3 separate regions of the Homo sapiens genome follow, and all the other regions are linked to region 1. Evidence: fine-mapped expression QTL. A gene starts in region 1. Each other region holds a variant in brackets. All regions are shown on one strand. Distances are from middle to middle.

Region 1 (5,977 bases):
CTTTGTCTGTTGTGGTGATGGGTTTTTAAATAGGTGTATCTATGTGTATATGTGTGTATCAAACTGAACACTTTAAATATACTTTGTTATATCAATATACTTCAATAAAGCTGTTAAAATTGTCCCAAATTTTAAGTTTTTCTCATTTGATTCTATAGTGCCACAGTAGGTAGTCAGACACAAGCAGAGCAGGAGAGGGCTCCCCGCTCCCACCAGGAATGTCACGCAACCATCAGGTGGTCAGGCAGTTGTTAAACTGTCTCTCTAAAATAATAACTGGTCACAGCCGGCACCAGGGAAAGGCAGTCTCCCAATGGCTAGAAAATACCTACAACTGGTGATCAGCAGCTTCTGGATAGGATCTTAGGAGTTGGCTGAGTGGGCTCACAGGTGTGAACTAAGAGGCAAAATGGTGGCATTTAACTGGTACTCATATATGACCTTCTTCTAGGAACACTTGACTAGTAAGCGAAGAATGCCTCAAGTGAGCATGCGTACAACCTCAGTTAACACACTGAGCATGTGGTCCCTCCCAAGTGCTGGCAGGCCACTGCACATGCAGACAGCCCACCTCAAGGGAAGAATCAGGGGAAAAGGGACACAACCCCCTGGAAGCATGCCAATGTATAAAACCCCAAGTCAAAGGTCAAGCAGCGCACTTGAATCTCTCAAGTTGCCCGCCTGGCCCTCTTCCAAGTGTACATTACTTCGTTTCATTCTTGCTCTAACTTTCACTCCTGCTCTAAAACGTGCCTTGGCCTCTCCCTCTGCCTTATGCCTCTCGGTAGAATTCTTTCTTTGGAGGAGGCAAGAATTGAGGTTGCTGCAGACCCATACAGATTTGCTGCTGCTAACACACTTTGGTGCATGAGACTCAGATACATTCCCTAGTGCTAACAACAGCATTACGTATTCTTACACAATGAGTTAAATTAGAAACGAAGGAAGTCTCTGGAGTACTGATGGAATCCAAGAGGACCAACAATATTTAAATAGTAAGTTCCAGTGGCAATGTCAGAAAGAACTTCAAGTACCTTAGGGAGGATAACAGTTGATCAAACAAACAAATGTAGAAAATTTCATGTTTACTTTAAAGTCACGTAAGTGTACAATGGCATTAAGTACATTTACAATGTTGTGTGACCACTGTCACTACCCATCTTCAAAACTTTTTCATCATCCAAAACTGAAATCCTGCACTCCTTAAAAAATAACTCCCCCTAAACAATAAAATTCATGGTTTTCAAGACAAAATACAATTCTTGAACATTTTACAATAAGCTAAAGTAGATTAAAATGACTTTGAGCATACAACAGGAGCAGTCAGGCTTAGATTGCTGCAAAAAGGCTTTGCAGGCTGGACACCATGATTTGTACCTCAAATCTGGCTGCTATTTCCCACACTCCTAGGTCCCAAAGAAATGTGGGTGAGGTCCTGCGGTTGACACACCGTCACTGTCATACTACTGGAAAAACAGCCCAAACTGTTAGCCTCAATGATATTGGGTCAATTGTGTCATCTTCGTGTGGGAAGAATGCCCTAATTATCATTACTCCCTTTGGACAAAATTAGCAAGTCATTTATAAATCATTTCACTTTCCTCCCTATTTGCCTCCTCCCGCTTCCTTCAGGTTCCATCCCTCAAAGTCATTGGGAAAAGCCTTGCAAACTGGATAGCAGTTTTGTGCATTTCCGGTTCAAGCTGCCTTACTCACTTTTTTTTTTTAATTTAAAAAAACTTTGGATTTTTTGTAGAGACAGGATCTTGCTATGTTGCCCAGGATGTTCCTGAACTCCAGGCCTCAAGCAATCCTCCCACCTCGGTCTCCCAAAGTGCTAGGATTACAGGCATGAGCCACCACACCTGGTTCACCTTACTCACTTCTATTCCAGGACGGTTCAACTATGATGTTTTGGCTCCTCTTCTCAAGCAGCTTTCCACACCTGGTTCCATGATCTCTTCTGGCACAGTAGCTGGTATTTGGCAAACATAGGTTTCATCCTGGGATCTCAGGGATTGAAATCTGTCCTAGGTGTGCACCAGAAAGTGGTGGCAAGAGATGAAGCTTCGGAGGAGGCTGACCTCGGCCAGGATTCTTAAGTCTCAAAGTTTCAGCTTTCTCACCCCTCAACGGACATGAAATCTACCTATTTGTAACTCCAGGGAAGTAAATGAGATAATGTTTGGAAGATATCTAGTCTACCAGCTGCTCAGGCGGGGGGCGAAGGTTCTGTTCCCTGTCCCTTCTCTATCAAATGGCTTTAAAATCAGAAGAAAGTATTACGGGTAGGAAATGGGACTGCGAAAAAAATGGAGGCTGATTCTGGCCTAAAGGATACTTATCTCTATACAAAGGGCTTCTGATTCAAAGAGGCCCCGGGATTCAAAAACACAAGCAGAGCTACACCACGTGGGGTTTGGGACGAGCTGAATTCCGGATAAAGATGCCTGTAAAGAGGAGTTGATGCGAATCCAGAAAAGCACTTGAAATGCCCAGGCTTTGCATGGCACATTCCCCAGGATTTTTTCGCACCGCATTTAGAGGTTTAGACGGAGTGAGCTCGAATCAGGCCAAAAGCCTTAGGTTACTCCTGGGCGGCAGCGGGGCAGAGGTCAGATCAACAGGTGTGGAAGGCTGCGAGGTGAGGGAAGAAGCAGGTGTCGGTGGAGGCCCCAGTTCCTCCGGCCCAGAGGCTCCAACGCTGCTATTGGTGTTCCAGCAGCGGGCGGAGGGGTCCTGCCCGGCATCTGGGCGCGCTGGGCCCAGAGCCCGGGAGGAGGCAGACGGAGGCGGCGGGTCAGCGGCGGGCCAGCCCCGGTGGGCTTCCGCTCCCCTCCGCCGGCCCGGTCCGGCCCGCCGCGGAGGATGCCTGGAGGTTGACGTGAATGGCCTGTGGCTGGGAAGCCCCCAGGCGCCCTGCCTAGCCCGGGGGCGGGGCCGCCTAGCCGCCGGCCCCGGTGGCGTGAGGGCTGGGGCGGGGGCCGGGGACCTCGCGGGGAGGGAGCGGGAGGGAAAGCGGCCCCCGCGGCCCTTCAATTGGCCGCACCGCCCCTCGGCGCAGAGGCGGGAGGAGGCGGCCCTCCATTGGTCGGGCCCGGCGGCCAATCCTCGAAGGCCCAGGCGGAGGCGGGGGCGGCCTGTGGGGAACCGAGGTGCGGGCGGCGAGCGAGGCAGCCGGGTGCTTCGCAGCGGAGCTCGAGGCTCTGTAGCACCCAGTTGGACCCAGTCGCCCAGGCACCGCCCGCGCCCCGCGGCCGTCTCCTGCGCCTCCCAGAGGAGGGAGTTCGAGCATCCCCCGCGGCGGCCACTCCTCGGGGCCAGGAGCGGGGAAGCGAAGTGCGAGAGACCCCGGACCCCAGCGCTGTCTCTTCCCGCCGCCCGAACCACCATGACCCACTTCAACAAGGGCCCTTCCTATGGGCTCTCGGCCGAAGTCAAGAACAAGGTACGCCTGGCTCGGGCGGGCGCGGGGGCCCCCGGGGCACCCTTGGGCTGGCCTGGCGCTGGGCCGTGCTTCGTTTGCTCTTCGCGCTGTGGCTCACCGTTTTCCTGGAGAGGGGCCGTCGAGGCGGCGCGAGCGTCTCTGCCTGTCCCGGTCGCGTCCAGTCCCCGGGCTTGCGGGGCCGGCTCCCGGGCACCCGCCTGGCTTTGTTCCCGCGCCGTGGGACAGGACTAGTGGCTGGCGGTGGGTTCCCGGGCGCCTGGAGTCCCGCGGCGCCAGCCTTTCCGGCTGCGGGGGTCTCGGGGGCCGTTTGGTGACTGCAGAACGCGCCCTCCGGGAAGGGGGCGCTCCTGCGTGGCCACTCGCCCTTAGGCGGAGCCCGTCTGCGCGGCCAGGGACCCGGCGAGCCGCTGCCGCAGCCCCCGCCATCTGCCCGGGCCCCGGGTGCTGGCGGACTCCGCGCCTCCCCACGGGGAGAGAGACCGCCTAATGTCCCGCCGACCCCAGGGGCCCCGAGGAACGGAAGCCGGTCCGGGACCCATCACAGTCTCCGATCTCGGTGCCTGGGAGGCATTTGGAGGCAGATTGCTGCTGCTGCTTCTGCTGTTGCTTTTGCGGGAAATGGAGACAAAGCCTGAGCGCGCCACTGTGCGAGTGATATCTGCTTAGGCTTGAGACTTTTTATGAAACACTGAGAAGTTTGAAGTACATTAGACTTTCACGACATAAAGGATTATTTTTGTGGGTTGCTTTTGTTTGGGGCTTGTTTGCTGAGGCGGCTTATAGTTTGGAGCGATTGGGATTTGGTGACGCTCAGCTTTGCCACTGAGCCCAAGAATGCGTTAGGTTTATCTTTAGGACTTTTGGCCTGGGAAAGAGATGAGAGGCGTCCCCCTCCCCAAATCCTCTCCTTCCTTCCTCCCTCCCTGCATTCCAAGCCCATGACATCAGGGGTTTCTGGGGGGAGAGACCAGCCAATCGGCGCGGAACTGTGCACAGAACGCTCATTGTCTCCTTTCTGCTGTTCTGGCCAAAGCGCCACAAAGGAGGGCTGCCTGTGGTTTAATTCCCATTAACCTCCCGGGAGCCCAAGCATGTCAGGATTGCCACCGCACCGTCCGACCGCTGGTGGAAGGCACTGGCATTGTCAGAGCTGGAACATCCCGGGGCTGCGGGGGTAGGCGGTGTGAAGCGAATTATGTAAAGAGGTAATGAAGCGCACCGTTGTCAAACCCCAAGGGAGAGTTGTGGCTCTTGTCTCCCGCTGTTAGTCTGCACATCATACTGTCTTTGAAGCAAGGAGTTGATTTTAGTCTATGTATCTAAAGTTGAAATGTTTAGGTCCTTTACCTTTTCAAACGTGTTGCCCGTATTAGACAACAGTTTGCTAACAATTTTTTTAGAGAGCAGAAAGGTGAATGGTTTGTGTATGATTGAGTGCAAACCTCACCAACTGAAAAGTTTGTAACAAGTTACTGTTTCCTTCCTTCCAGGATTTACAAACCGAACTTTAGGAAACTTCAGAGGAATGGGCATGTCCAAAATGTTGGATGTGATGTGATACTTTGGCCTGGTTGTGCACATTCATTGTAATTCCCCCCAGTGATTCTTGGCTGGCAGCAGTTGAGTCTCTACTACCTTTTGCATTGTAAATGAGGTACTGATAACGTTGGCAGCCCTTCAAGTGACTTACTTTTCTTGGATGTTAATAATATCCATGCTAATTTCTTTTTTGCTGACTAATGTAGCAGCTTTTGCCCTTTTCCTGCTTAATACTGAGCAGATCCAAGGAAATGCATACACAGGCTAGATCACTGTAATTATTGTAAATATTTAAAAACGGTAAAACCTCAGTTTTTAGAACCTTTGGAAAGTTAGTTATGAAAGCTGTGGATTTATCCCTTTAAGCACCAAACCCATTTTTTAATAACCCGTTTCATTTTTGTAGTCCTTTCAGACAGTATTCTTTCATAGGAAGTCTTTTGATCTTAACAGCAGAGCAGTCCTGTAAGGTGAGGAGGATTGCTGGGATTATCCAACATCATTTACAGATCAGTACACTGAAGCTCAGAAAGATTTGCTCAAGGTCACAGAAGTTGGACTATTCTAAGAATTTTAACTCTAAAAGCGATGTCTTAGTTGAGTGAAGTACTTAGGGATGTTCTACACAAACTCTGCTGTCTGTCGCCTTCCCCCCATTTTTTTTTCTTTCTTTTTTGAGACGGAGTCTTGCTCTGTCGCCCAGGCTGGAGTGCAGTGGCGCGATCTCAGCTCACTGCAACCTTCGCCTCCCAGGTTCAAGTGATTCTCCTGCCTCAGCGCCCCGAGTAGCTGGGATTACAGGTGCCTGCCACCATGCCCGGCTAATGTTTGTATTATTTAGTAGAGACAGGGTTTTGCCATGTTGGCCAGGCTGGTCTCCAACTCCTGACCTCAGGTGATTCCCCCTGCCTTGGCCTTCCAAAATGCTGGGATTACAGGCGTGAGCCATGGCGCCCAGCCCTTCCTCCCATTTTTGCTACCCACCTGTCA
Region 2 (5,977 bases), 39 kb after region 1:
GTATGGCTTAATTTTCAGAATCCCAGGCTCCTTTATTTAGTCAAGATATCTCACCTTTCCTAGAAAAATTATGAAGTCTCCAAAGCAGTTAATAGATGTAAAGTGACTTGAGTTCTTGGACAAGATTTTGAATGCATCTTTTGCTGATGTACAGAAATCTGTCCCATTAATAGCAGTTGTAGTATATGCATTCTGAAACAGAAGAGAATTGTTTAAAAGATAATTCTTATAACAATTGTTTTTAAGGCAATATATTAATACAGAGTGTTTGCAAACTAGAGTTACAATAAACCTACTCTCTCTACCCATAACAAATACCATTTTCAAAGTCCTTTCCAGTCTGATTATATCCATATATATTTTCATATAGTTGCAGCAAATAGAAAAGATAAATAGGTACTTATGGTTAATATGAATGTCCCACTACAAACATGTGGAAATGATGGGTAAAGCATAAGGGTTTTATTTGCTTGTTTTGAGACAGTCTTACACTGTTGCCCAGGCTGGAGTGCAGTGGTGCCATCTTGGCTCACTGCAACCTCTGCCTCCTGGGCTCAAGCGATTCTTGTACCTTGGCCTCCTGAGTAGCTGGGATTACAGGCGAGAGCCACCACCCTGGCGATAAGTTATTTTTTAATGCACAATAGAGTTTGAGGGCAGGAAAGGAAGTTTAGGTACCAGAAAGCAAGCGGGATCTAATGGTTTGTGAGAGCTGAACCCAAAGGTGCAACAGGCATGCAATTAGGCCCTTGCTAGGGAAGTGAGCTCCTTCAACAAATTCAGGATTCATACTCAATTCAGCCTCAGTCAGCCATTCCAGGAAGGTGGTACAGAAATGCACTATGTGCCTAAGAGTGTTAAAATTACTAGGGTTTTGCAAAGGCAAAGCAACATCGCCACCTCCCAGGCCAGGGAATAGAGGAGTCCTACAGATAACAACCCTTGGAGAAGACGAGGAGCTCACAGGAAAATTTTATAGAGGACCCATGGAAATGAACATCACAACAAACAGAATCTACCCTGAGAACAACCTGGAAAAAAAGTATTTAGAGAGGTATGTTTAAGGTACTAAGAAAATAGTGAAAGAAACAGTGACCATAAGGAATAAACAGAACAGTATGAAAAATGAAGAGGCAGAGTAGAAAACAAATTGAATAGAAATTCTAGAAATAGGCCAGGTGCCGTGGCTCATGCCTGTAATCCCAACACTTTAGGAGGCCGAGGCGGGAGGATCACCTGAGGTCAGGAGTTCAAGACCAGCCTGAGCAACATGGAGTAATCCCTTCTCTACTAAAAATACAAAATTAGCCAGGCATGGTGGTGCATGCCTGTAATCCCAGCTACTCGGGAGGTTGAGGCAGGAGAATTGCTTGAACCCGGGAGGCGGAGTTTGCGGTGAGCCAAGATCGTGCCATTGCACTCCAGCCTGGGCAACAAGAGCGAAACTCCATCTCAAAAAAAAAAAGCTAGAAATAAAAAATATACAGTGTAACTGGTATGGTGTCATGATTATATATCTGGCTTTTTTCTTTGTATAATAAGCATTTTTATGTTACTACATGGCTTTTATAATTTTAATTTTTAACGCATATTCTGGGATATACATATGTGCATGTGTACGTGCATGTGTGTAGCTGGGACATGTTGACTGTTTCAAATGTTTTGCTGTTATAAACAACTATGCAATGAACTCTTGATTTCCTGATTTTAGATAATTTCTTAAGCATAAATTCTCAGAAACAAGATTACTATATCAAAGACTACAAATGTGTGTGTGTGTGTGTGTGTGTGTGTGTGATTATGTTCACATGAGACGATTTCTCAGGTTATTTTTTCCAAAATACCTTCCCCTTATGACTACATTTCAAGACCATTTATGTCTCTTGAAATCTTTAAAAATGCTACTTGCATTGCAGATTACAACAAGAATTTATAACTTTCCTGGGAAAATACATGAGAATACTACCTGCTTGGGTTGTTGTCATTCCTTTTGGTTTGGATAAAGGATGAAAGTTTTTTATTTCATGATATACAAATTAACCCTTTTGTACACCCCTTCAGACACATCGTAAGGAAATCAGTGTGGAGTCTACTGCAGTAATCAGCCTCCCACAGTGCGGGTCCTAATAGAGTAAGTAGAAGAGATGAAGACCACTAACAAGCATAGGGTTAAGGGAGCAGAATTAACTGACCCAATTTACCAAACTCCCTCTTCAAGGCCAGCAAGAGAAGAATGTTTGGTTCTTAAAGACAAAAGGCTGGGCCAGGCACGGTGGCTCATGCCTGTAATCCCTGCACTTTGGGAGGCCAGGGGTTGGGGCAGATCAAGAGGTCAGAAGTTGAAGACCAGCCTGACCAACATGGTGAAACCCTGTCTTTACTAAAAATACAAAATATACATATATATGTGTATATATATATATATATAGCCAGTCGTGGTGGCACATGCCTATGATCCTAGCTACTGGGAAGGCTGAGGCAGGAGAAACGCTTGAACCCGGGAAGCAGAGGTTGAAGTGAGCCGAGATCGCACCACTGCACTCCAACCTGGGTGACAGAGCGAGACTCCGCCTCAAAAAAAAAAGACAAAAGGCTGGAAACCATATCCCTGATAGGGCACCATGCTTGCCTTAGAGATTTTCAGTGAGACGTCAGATGAATTTCCTGCAAAAAAAAAAAAGAAAGTTCCACAAGGAAATTTTGGTTTTGGACTTACATAGAATGTGCGTGAAATTTGCTTTGAAAATCTCAAACCAGCTGTTGCTGGAAAGCTGCTCCAGTTTGGGGGCCTGAGTCTTGTGCAGGGATGTGGAAACTCATTTACTCATATTATTTAACTAGGCATCTTCAATCATCTTGGGTTTTCAAAGCCCTGATGACCAATCTATTCATTCATCCTCAAAGCACATCTGTAGGATGGGTGGGTGAAGAATGGCATAATTGTTCTTTTATAGACTGGAAACCAAGATCAAGGGCATTTCCCCCAGGTCCCCTGGTGAATCCATGAGACAGAGACCGTTTTATTTTAATTTTTTAAATTCTAACCTTCTGGACATTACACTATCAATTTTCATTAGGAAAAATTGCTATTTAAAAGCATGGTGGTTACGGTAAGCACAGGCTCTGTAGCCAGACTGTCTCTGTGCTCAAATCCCAATTCTACCACTGACTAGCTGTTGGTCTTGGGCAAATGATCTAACCTCTCTAAGACCTCAATTTCCTCATCTATAAAATGACTTACAGCACCTACCGCAAAGGGATGTTGGGAGGATTAAAGAACCTACTCCCTGTAAAGCACAGAGAAAATGTGTAATAAAGAGTGGTTATTATCATCCAGACATCACCAAAGATGATCTCATTTACAACTGGGAACACAGAGGCAACTCTTTAAGCACCTGAGGAGGTGTGGCAGGGGCCTGTAGTTGCTTTACCTGTAGGCTTTAATCCCTCACACCCACAGGGATCCAGGAAAGGGCTTTTTAGACCACCTGCCAGCCCCCAGCATCGTCTTACAGCAGCTCCACCATTGCCGCTCAGCCTCTGTCTCTGCCTCCTCTCTTCATTCAGGCTGCCTCCAGCCCACCACCCCATCACTTCCCCACTCTAAGCTTCCTAAAGTGCTTCTTGCTTCCCATGGGGAAGCACTGTTTTTGTGGGGACTTCTTTTTCTGCAGATCACTGCCTCGTATTTAATTTAGCACCATCTCTCATAAG[T/C]AGTAAAAACAGATTTCGCTCTTTGGCTAAAATGATTAAAATTTAAAAAGGTATTATACTTTCTCATGCATGTGTTGACTCCAAAGAGTTTTGGGGCCCATAAGCATTTATCTTTTCTTATGTATCAGGCCCACTGAAAGAAGGCATTAAAAGCACTCTGATAGAGAAATTATATATGCCTTCCTGCAGGTACCATACCACTAGCATTTTACCAGATTCAACCCTGAGTGCAACAGAGAGATCTAGAATTAACATCTGAATGAATAGGGGGAGGAGGGAGGAATCACTCAAGACACAGGATACGGATTAAACATTTCTGCAGCTTCAGCATTAGCTAATTTATACTTATTCTGAGTAGAAGCTGCTTGTCAGGCAGCTGGAAGATGGAGTGCACTAACATTTTCATCGTAAGTCCTTGTTCTGAGCATTTGTATTTGCCTGGGATGACAGAACTCAGGATTAACGTGCCAAGGTAATCTGCAGACTCTAACAAAATGTGGAAATGATTGGCCATAATAAGGACTAGGAAACACGTTTTATTGGTTGTGGAAGTTAAGAGATCCTAAAGGCTAACCTTTAAACAAGCAAGCAGGAGGTAGTGGCATTCGGCTTTTGATTTATTCCCAAAATTCAGTGTGCATACTTCTTTAGCATCACAAAACAGGTGGGTGGATATTTCTGTCTTGAAATTGAAGCTATAAACACACAAGACAGATACGAGGAAGGATTCCCAAGTTGGCATTGGTAGTATCTCAATATTATGTCCCAATTCTCACTCCCTTGCTTGGGATCCAAGACTCCCTCCAGGTACAGGTGGATTAGTTTTCAGACTTTAATGGACTGGTCACCTGGGACTGTCCCGAGTGGCTGAGAAGCACTGGGGGAAGAACACAATGAGGACGCCCTGTGTGGCTGTGAGGGCTTCAAAACAATGAAATACATAGCACAAGTGCACATGTGAGGGCCACAAAGAGCAGAACCACAAGCTGGAGGGAGAGGGGAAGAGAGGGCCCAGCAGGAGGGATCAGGGAAGGCTTCATGGAAGTGGCATACGAGCTGGCCCCAGTGTTGCCTGTCTCCAGCAGGGTAGGAGGCAGCAGCAGGAGCCAGCAACATGAGCCACAGACATGAGCATACCAGCAGGCTACTGGGGGGCCCCAGCAGAGGAGAAATGGGAAACAGGTCTGGAAGAGTCGGGGGTCAGCCCTCGGTGGGTGGGGCTGATGCAGAGTGTGGAGCAAGAGCAGTGAAAGGAAGTTTCAGGAGGACTCACGATTTTCAGCCTGTGCCTCTGGAAGCTCTCCCAGGCTGCCCTGGGGAAGTTCAGGTCAGATCTCCCTCATCACCATCTTCTGCTGAGCCACGAAGCTCTGCACCTTCCAAGGCTCATTCCTATTCAAGCCTAGGAGACTCCCCAAGCACCTCCACAATGCCTACGGGGCTCTGCTGGAGTTGGGTGGAAATGCTGTGGTGGCCATGCAGCCATTGAGCACACCGACCCGCCAGCAGTCATAAGCCAGGGGCTAGGCCCAAAGACCGTGAGTTCTTCTTGGGAGAAAATAGGAGTATTAGGAATAGTAACTCCTCCAGGCACTCTGGCTCCCCTCCACCCCCACCTCGGTGGATGCCTTAGTGATATATCCCAAATGCCTTGGCACAGACCTAATGATAGCTACAACTTTCTAATTTCCATCTGTGGCCTTTTTCTTTTCCAGTCAGTAGGCAGGTGTGCAACTTCTGTGTGTAAATAAATAATAACGCTAATAATAAATAATAATGGCATTAATCTTGCATGTACTATGTGCCAGGCTCTATGCTACCTCTCCCCGAACACATTCACTCATTTAGTCCTCTTAACTCCAACCCGATGAGGTAGTTAAGGAAACTAAAGCACAGAGAGGTAAAGTAGTGTGCCCCCGGTTCCACGCGTGTCATAGATGTTGCGTCCATCTTCCATGAAGTGGACCTCTAACTCGTTCAGGCCCATCTGCTGGAAAACTTTACTTTGAGCTGTACTTTGTGCTTTTTCTCCTGGAAAGTTCAAAATAACAAAGTGGTGTTCTCATGAGATGCACCATTGAAAACAGCTGAGGATGTGGCAGGATGGCTTAGTGGAAAGAGGCTGGATTCCAGTCATGTTGCCTCCAAAGACTTGCGGAACGGCTTCCACCAAATCACGTCACTTCTCAAGGGCCCTCACTTTGCTGCTTGGAAAAGACTTCCACCAACTCCAATGTTCCATGATGCTTTATGTTTGTGCTTC
Region 3 (5,977 bases), 31 kb before region 1:
TGACCTGTCGTGTGTCCTTGGGCAGGTTTTTTTGTTTGCTTATTTTTTTCACCTCCCTGTGTCTTAGTTATCTCTACTCTAAAATGAGAATAATTGGAAGGGTTATAGGTACCATATTAAAGCCCCTGGGACAGTGCTAGAAGCATAAATATAAATGGCAGCTGATATTCTTATTGTTTATTAAACCTTTTCAAAGTATCCAATGCATGAATTGAAGTGTAATTGCAGTGATAACCACAGGCCCCAAAATGTATCATGGAGGCTAAAACCTAATTGGTTTAAAAAAAAAAAAATCAAGCTTTTTATGCTTCATCCCAGATAAGTGATTTAAATGCTTAGACTCACATCGTTTCATGCTTGGAGTTCTGAGAGCACAAGGGGCCCCCTTTACTTCCTTGTTTATGTGACAACAGGGGAAATCTCATCATCCTCCCCTCGCCAGGCTAACTTTTTGAGGTTCAGCTTGAAAAAAAAAAGAGAAAAGTAGCAGTTATATTTGGGAGCAAGGACTGGTGAGCTTGGTTACTGGGATTGAACCCTAGCCTAGAGGAATTACTGAAGGTTGAACCCAACAAAAGTACCTAAACCTCAGTCTAAAGTTTTCAATCCAGGCCAGGCGTGGTGGCTCACTCCTGTGAACCAGCACTTTGTGAAGCCAAGGAAGGCAGATGGCTTGAGCCCAGGAGTTTGAGACCATATGGCCAAGATGGTGAAATCCTGTCTCCCCTAAAAAAAAAAAAAAAAAAAAAAAAAAAAAAAAAAAAAAGAAAAATTAGCCAGGCGTGGTGGCACAGGCCTGTGATCCCAGTTACTCTGGAGGCTGAGGCAGGAGAATTGCTTGAGCCCGGGAGGCGGAGGTTGCAGTGAGCCAAGACGGCGCCACTGCACTTCAGCCTGGGTGACAGAGTGAGACTCTGTCTGAAATAAATAAACAAACAAACAAACAAACATTTCAATGTGATAAATAAATCAAGAGCTGCACTATATAGTGAGAGTAGGAAGTCTCTTCCTGACCCCATCTCTCCTCTTTAAGGTATGAGAGAGGCCTGAGGGGCTTGCAGGCCACAGAGCTGAAGGCTAGGATATCACTCCAACACGGTCAAACAGGAAGAATCCAACTCCCACTAGCTTCAAGAACAAGTGATGGGGAAAAAAGGGAGAAGCAGGAAGCCGGCAACAGACAACTGTATTTTTTCTAGTTACACATGCAGCAACCAAGCTATGTCCACATGGTGGGCTTCCCCGTGTCCGGGTGCATTCACTCTGGCACCTTGCTAAGATTCTTTGCAAGTCAACAAGTCAACAGGCTTCCTCCTCATGCCATGTCTGCCCTGTCCTCCTTCTAGAATCAGGGAGGGACTCTCAGGAAGTAGACCAGACCCACAGGCCCCTGGGCTGCCGGACACTCCCACTCTCCCCCACAAATGAGAAGATCTCCCTATCCCCTCTTGTCCCTGTCCCAGATCCCCTCAGTAGTGATTATGTAATTCCATTACAATTCAGAGGAAAAAGGGATTTTTAAAAAGAGATCAGAGAGGCAGATTGGCCTTCAAGGTAGAGGATCTATAAAACCAGCCCATTCTACCGGCCATAGACAGTGTTCAGATATCCTAGACAAGGAAAGTCCAAGAGGAACACAGAGGGTTAAAGTTCCTCCTGGACTTGGGCAGGTGCAGTGGCTCACACCTGTAATCCCAGCACTGAGGTGGGAGGATTGCTTGAGCCCAGGAGTTTGAGACCAGCCTGAACAACATAGAGAGACACCATGGATACAAATAATTTAAAAAATTAGCTGGATGTGGTGGTGTGTGCCTGTGGTCCCAGCTACTCAGGAGGCAGAAGCAGGAGGATCACCTAGCCCAGGAGGTCCAGGCTGCAGTGAGTGGTGACTGCACCACTGCACTCCAACTTGGGCAACACAGTGACTCAAAAAATTAAAAAAATAAATAAAAGCAGAATAGCATTATCCTTTAAGCATCACACTCTCACACACACAAAGTTAGTGTACGTGGATATTATATCTTGAGTTTATTGAGATGTATGAGAGCACAACTTGTGCTTTTTCGAGTTCTTTACAATTCTTGATGTAATGCTATATAGCACTATATAGTAGATGCTCAACTGATATTTGTGAATAAATGCCTGTGAAATAGAGTCCTGGCCGGGCATGGTAGCTCAAGCCTGTAATCCCAACACTTTGGGGACTGAGGAGGCTGGATCACCTGAGGTCAGGAGTTCGAGACCAGCCTGACCAACATGGTGAAACCCTGTCTGTACTAAAAATACAAAAATTAGCCGGGCGTGGTAGCAGGTGCCTGTAATCCCAGCTACTCAGGAGGCTGAGGCAGGAGAATCACTTGAACCTGGGAGGCGGAGGTTGCAGTGAGCTGAAATTGTGCCATTGCACTCTAGCCTGGGTGACAGAGCAAGACTCCATCTCAAAAAAGAAAAGAAAAGAAAAGAAATAAAGAGTTCTAGAGTGGTAAGGGTAGGCTTCATAAAGAGGGTAGTAAGTTACCTAGATTATTACAGGGCATTGATCAGAATGCTGGTTGTAGTAAACTTTTTAGTTTTATTGTTAGAGCCAAGAAATAATACTAATTCCCCTCCACTTCTTATAAAACATGGCAAGGGGCAGGGGAGATGCTTAGCTTTTGAGTGCCCATTTTTGCTGCCAAAGGTAAGGAAGCTAATTTTACTAGTTGTTCCCTAAGGTACTGGTTTATATCTATCCTCTTTTCAGTCCTGTTGTTCTACCCTGCTTATAAACTTCATCATAAGAATCAAGACATGAGAGGCACAACAGTGAACACAACAGAAGTCAGGCGACCTCACTCTAAAGGGCACTCAACTACAAGAATAACCCATCATTTATTTCTGTTGAAAATGGAAACGTGGGGCAGGCTCCTTGGTGGTAATCTTCGCTGTGCCTGATTCTGATTCTAGGCAGAGACAGAAATTGTTTAATAAAACCCAGGTGACCATATCCTTTCCTATGCAGACATAATGGATTGCAATGTCATGATTATGCTCTGTTCTCCAGGGCTTTTGCAAACAAGTCATTATATCGTGGTGGAAAGTTTGAGGTATTCACTATACCTTGAAAATAATGTGCCTTTCTTTACCAGGGTAGGAACAGCCTCTAAGTGAAGACAGAGGAGTGAGAAATATGACATTTCTGCATGAGTTGGCTACTAGTCGCAACACATCTTGGTGCAAATAAAGGAAGTGTTAGCTGCTTGGGGTGGTTAATTGGCTGGGCCACGGTGCCCAGATAGTGGTGAAACATTATTCTGGATGTTTTTGTGATGGTGCTTTTGAATTAGATTAGAATTTAAATCTGTCAACTTTGAGTAAAGTAGATTGCCTGCCATGGTGTGGGTGGGTCTCATCTAATCAGTGGAAGGGGTGAATAGAACAAAGGTCTCACCTCCCCTAGCAAGAGGAAATTCTACTAGCACATGGTCTTTGGACTTGAACTGTATATCAGCCCTCCCTGGGTCTTCAGCCTGCTGGCCTACCTTGCAAATTTTTGTTTGTTTGTTTG[A/TTTGA]TTGTTGAGACAGAATCTCACTCTGTCATCCAGGCTGAAGTCCAGTGGCATGATCACAGCTGCCTTGACCTCCTGGGATCAAGTGATCCTCCTGCCGCAGCCTCTCAAGTAGCTGGGACTACAGGCACATGCCACTATGCCTGGCTAATTACCTTGCAGATTTTGAACTTGCCAGCCTTCATAATTGTATGAGCCAATCCCTTACAATAAATCTCAACGAATCTCTTTCTATACGTATACATAACCAATTGGTCCTATCTGTCTGGAGAACCCTGACTAATACACTGCTGTAACAAATAATCCTCCCACATTTCAGTGGCTGAACACAATGAATTTATGTCTCTCTCAAAGAGCAGCCCAAAGCCAGAGTTCCCTGTTGGGGGGAGTTTTTCCACCATGCAGTAATTCAGACACCCAAACTTCTTTCACCCATGATCCATTATCCTCCAGGCCCTCTGCATCCTCTATGTCCAGCTGGCAGAAAGGAAAGTGAGAATAGAGAAGACAAATCTGCGTTTTAACCATGGTGGCCCAGATGTGGCCTCCACTATTCCCACTCACTTTCCTTTGCTGAGAATGAATCACATGACTCCATGGAGAGGAATGGTGGGGCTGGGGAAGATGGCCCTTGACTGCAGAGCCACTTCCCAACAACAACTTTCTGCTACGGAAAAGGGAGCAAGCATTTGGTAGCCACCAGTCTTCTTGGTGAACACTTGCTGTCTTACGTGTGTTTTTAAGAATTATTCCACTGCAACTCTAATCTCTTTGGTGTTTTCTCTGACAAGAGTCCCCATCCAATTTGTTTCCTTCTAATACGGCACAGAGCTTATTCTGTGCATTTCCTGAGTGGCCTCACATCATTAGACCTTTCACAGATCTAAAATCTAGCAAGAAAAATAAGGTTAACAAAAATAAAAAGGTTAAATAATAATAGAAGGCCAGCACAGTGGCTCATGTCTCTACTCACAGCAATTTAGGAGGCCAAGGTGGGAGGATTGCTTGAGCTCAGGGGTTCAAGACAAGACTGGGCAACAAAGCGAGACCCTGTCTCTACAAAACATTAGCCAGGTGTGGTGGAGCACATCTGGAACCCAAGCTACTCAGGTGGCTGAGAAAAGAGGATGGCCTGAGCCAGGAGGTTGAGGCTACAGTGAGCCAAGGGTTGCGCCACTGCACTCCAGCCTGAGCAACAGAGAGAGACTCTGTCTCAAAAAAACAAAACAAAACAGTAGAAGGCAGTATGTTATTACATGTGCAGAGAACAGGACAGATGGTAAGTATAATGTGTGTTCAGAAGAGGGAAAGTGGCCGGGTGCTGTGGCTCACTCCTATAATCCCAGCACTTTGGGAGGCCAAGGTGGGCAGATCACTTGAGGTCAGGAGTTCGAGACCAGCCTGGCCAACATGTTGAAACCCTGTCTCTACTAAAAATACAAAAATTAGCCAAGCACGGTTGTGCATGCCTGTAGTCCCAGCTACTCAGGAGGCTGAGGCACAAGAATCACTTGAACCCAGGAGGCAGAGGTTGCAGTGAGCTGAGATCGTGCCACTGCACTCCAGCCTGGGCAGCAAAGCAAGACTGCTTCTCAAAAAAATAAAAAAACGAGAAAGAGAGGTTCTGTAATCAGATGAAGTAAACGTGTAGTTCACTAGAATCTTTTTTTGTTGTTGTTAGGTTTTCCTTTTTTCCAAAAAAGATTTTAAGTTCCTCATTAACCAAATATTTGAGTATCTATTTGTTGGCTGGCTCTTACTAATATCTTACTCACATCTCCCTATATCACCTATGCTGGTACAGAGCATATAGTAAACACTGGCCTCTCTCTAATTCTACTTCAGAAATATCTCATGTCCATTTCTCCATATGCACTCCCCATCCCTAGCCTATGAACAATGCCCTCTTCCTTCTTGCCTAGCCTACTGAAATGTACTCCCTGCTGGGCTTCCTATTTCTAATCTCTGACCTTTTTAACTCATATCCACAAATCACCAGAGTTATCATCCTAAAACACAGGTCAGATTGGGACAGACCTTGACAGAGAACAAATTCCACAGGCCTTCATATGTTAGTGTGCTAGTTTGTTTTATGCTCATAAATTCCTCCCATCCCAGTTTGTATGCTCCTTTGCAGTGTGACCTTGCTGCTTCTCCCTTGGAGGAGTGGAGTTCGTTTTTCCACCCTCTTGGATCTGGGCTGGACTTGTGACTTGTTTTGACAAATACAATGCAGCAGACATGACCTAAGCGTCCTGAAGCTTAGGCCTAACAGGCCTGGCAGCTTCTGCCTTTGTTCATTTGGAAAGCTGCCCTGAGACTCCAATGCAAGGAAGGCAGTCTGGCCTAGTGGAAGATGAGAGGCCACATGGAGAAGAACTGAGGCTCTCTAGCCAGCAACCATTCCCCAACGTCAACTGTCAGACGTGTGAG

Which allele goes with the higher level. Positions count from the first base shown, and alleles are read on the strand shown. Sizes are in standard deviations (SD) of each study's normalised expression.
For the expression in cerebral cortex of the gene that starts at base 3,176 in region 1, C is the high allele of the variant in region 2 and T is the other (small effect, 0.14 SD a copy in GTEx).
For the expression in ileum of the gene that starts at base 3,176 in region 1, allele A in region 3 goes with a higher level than allele TTTGA (moderate effect, 0.58 SD a copy in CEDAR).

Evidence for each region. PIP is the estimated chance that this variant, and not a neighbour inherited with it, causes the effect. A credible set is the group of variants that fine-mapping cannot tell apart.
Region 2: its variant is the best candidate, but not a certain one, in a credible set for the expression of CNN3 in cerebral cortex (GTEx, PIP 0.70).
Region 3: its variant is the best candidate, but not a certain one, in a credible set for the expression of CNN3 in ileum (CEDAR, PIP 0.89).

What each region holds. Positions count from the first base shown.
Region 1 is chr1:94,924,309-94,930,285 of GRCh38, reverse strand. CNN3 (calponin 3) reads left to right here and starts at 3,176. Exons shown (of 7, transcript NM_001839.5): 1 at 3,176-3,448. The coding sequence starts at 3,392. CNN3-DT (CNN3 divergent transcript) reads right to left here and starts at 3,926. Exons shown (of 3, transcript NR_168377.1): 1 at 3,546-3,926. RefSeq lists silencers at 2,659-3,538, 3,639-4,068.
Region 2 is chr1:94,885,345-94,891,321 of GRCh38, reverse strand. SLC44A3 (solute carrier family 44 member 3) reads right to left here. Exons shown (of 15, transcript NM_001114106.3): 13 at 55-192. Among named protein-coding and RNA genes, the nearest start is that of CNN3-DT, 38 kb to the left of the region's middle. The variant T/C (reference allele first, on the strand shown) is at 3,715.
Region 3 is chr1:94,955,802-94,961,778 of GRCh38, reverse strand. The region is part of intron 2 of CNN3-DT (CNN3 divergent transcript); the gene reads right to left. Among named protein-coding and RNA genes, the nearest start is that of CNN3, 32 kb to the right of the region's middle. The variant A/TTTGA (reference allele first, on the strand shown) is at 3,548.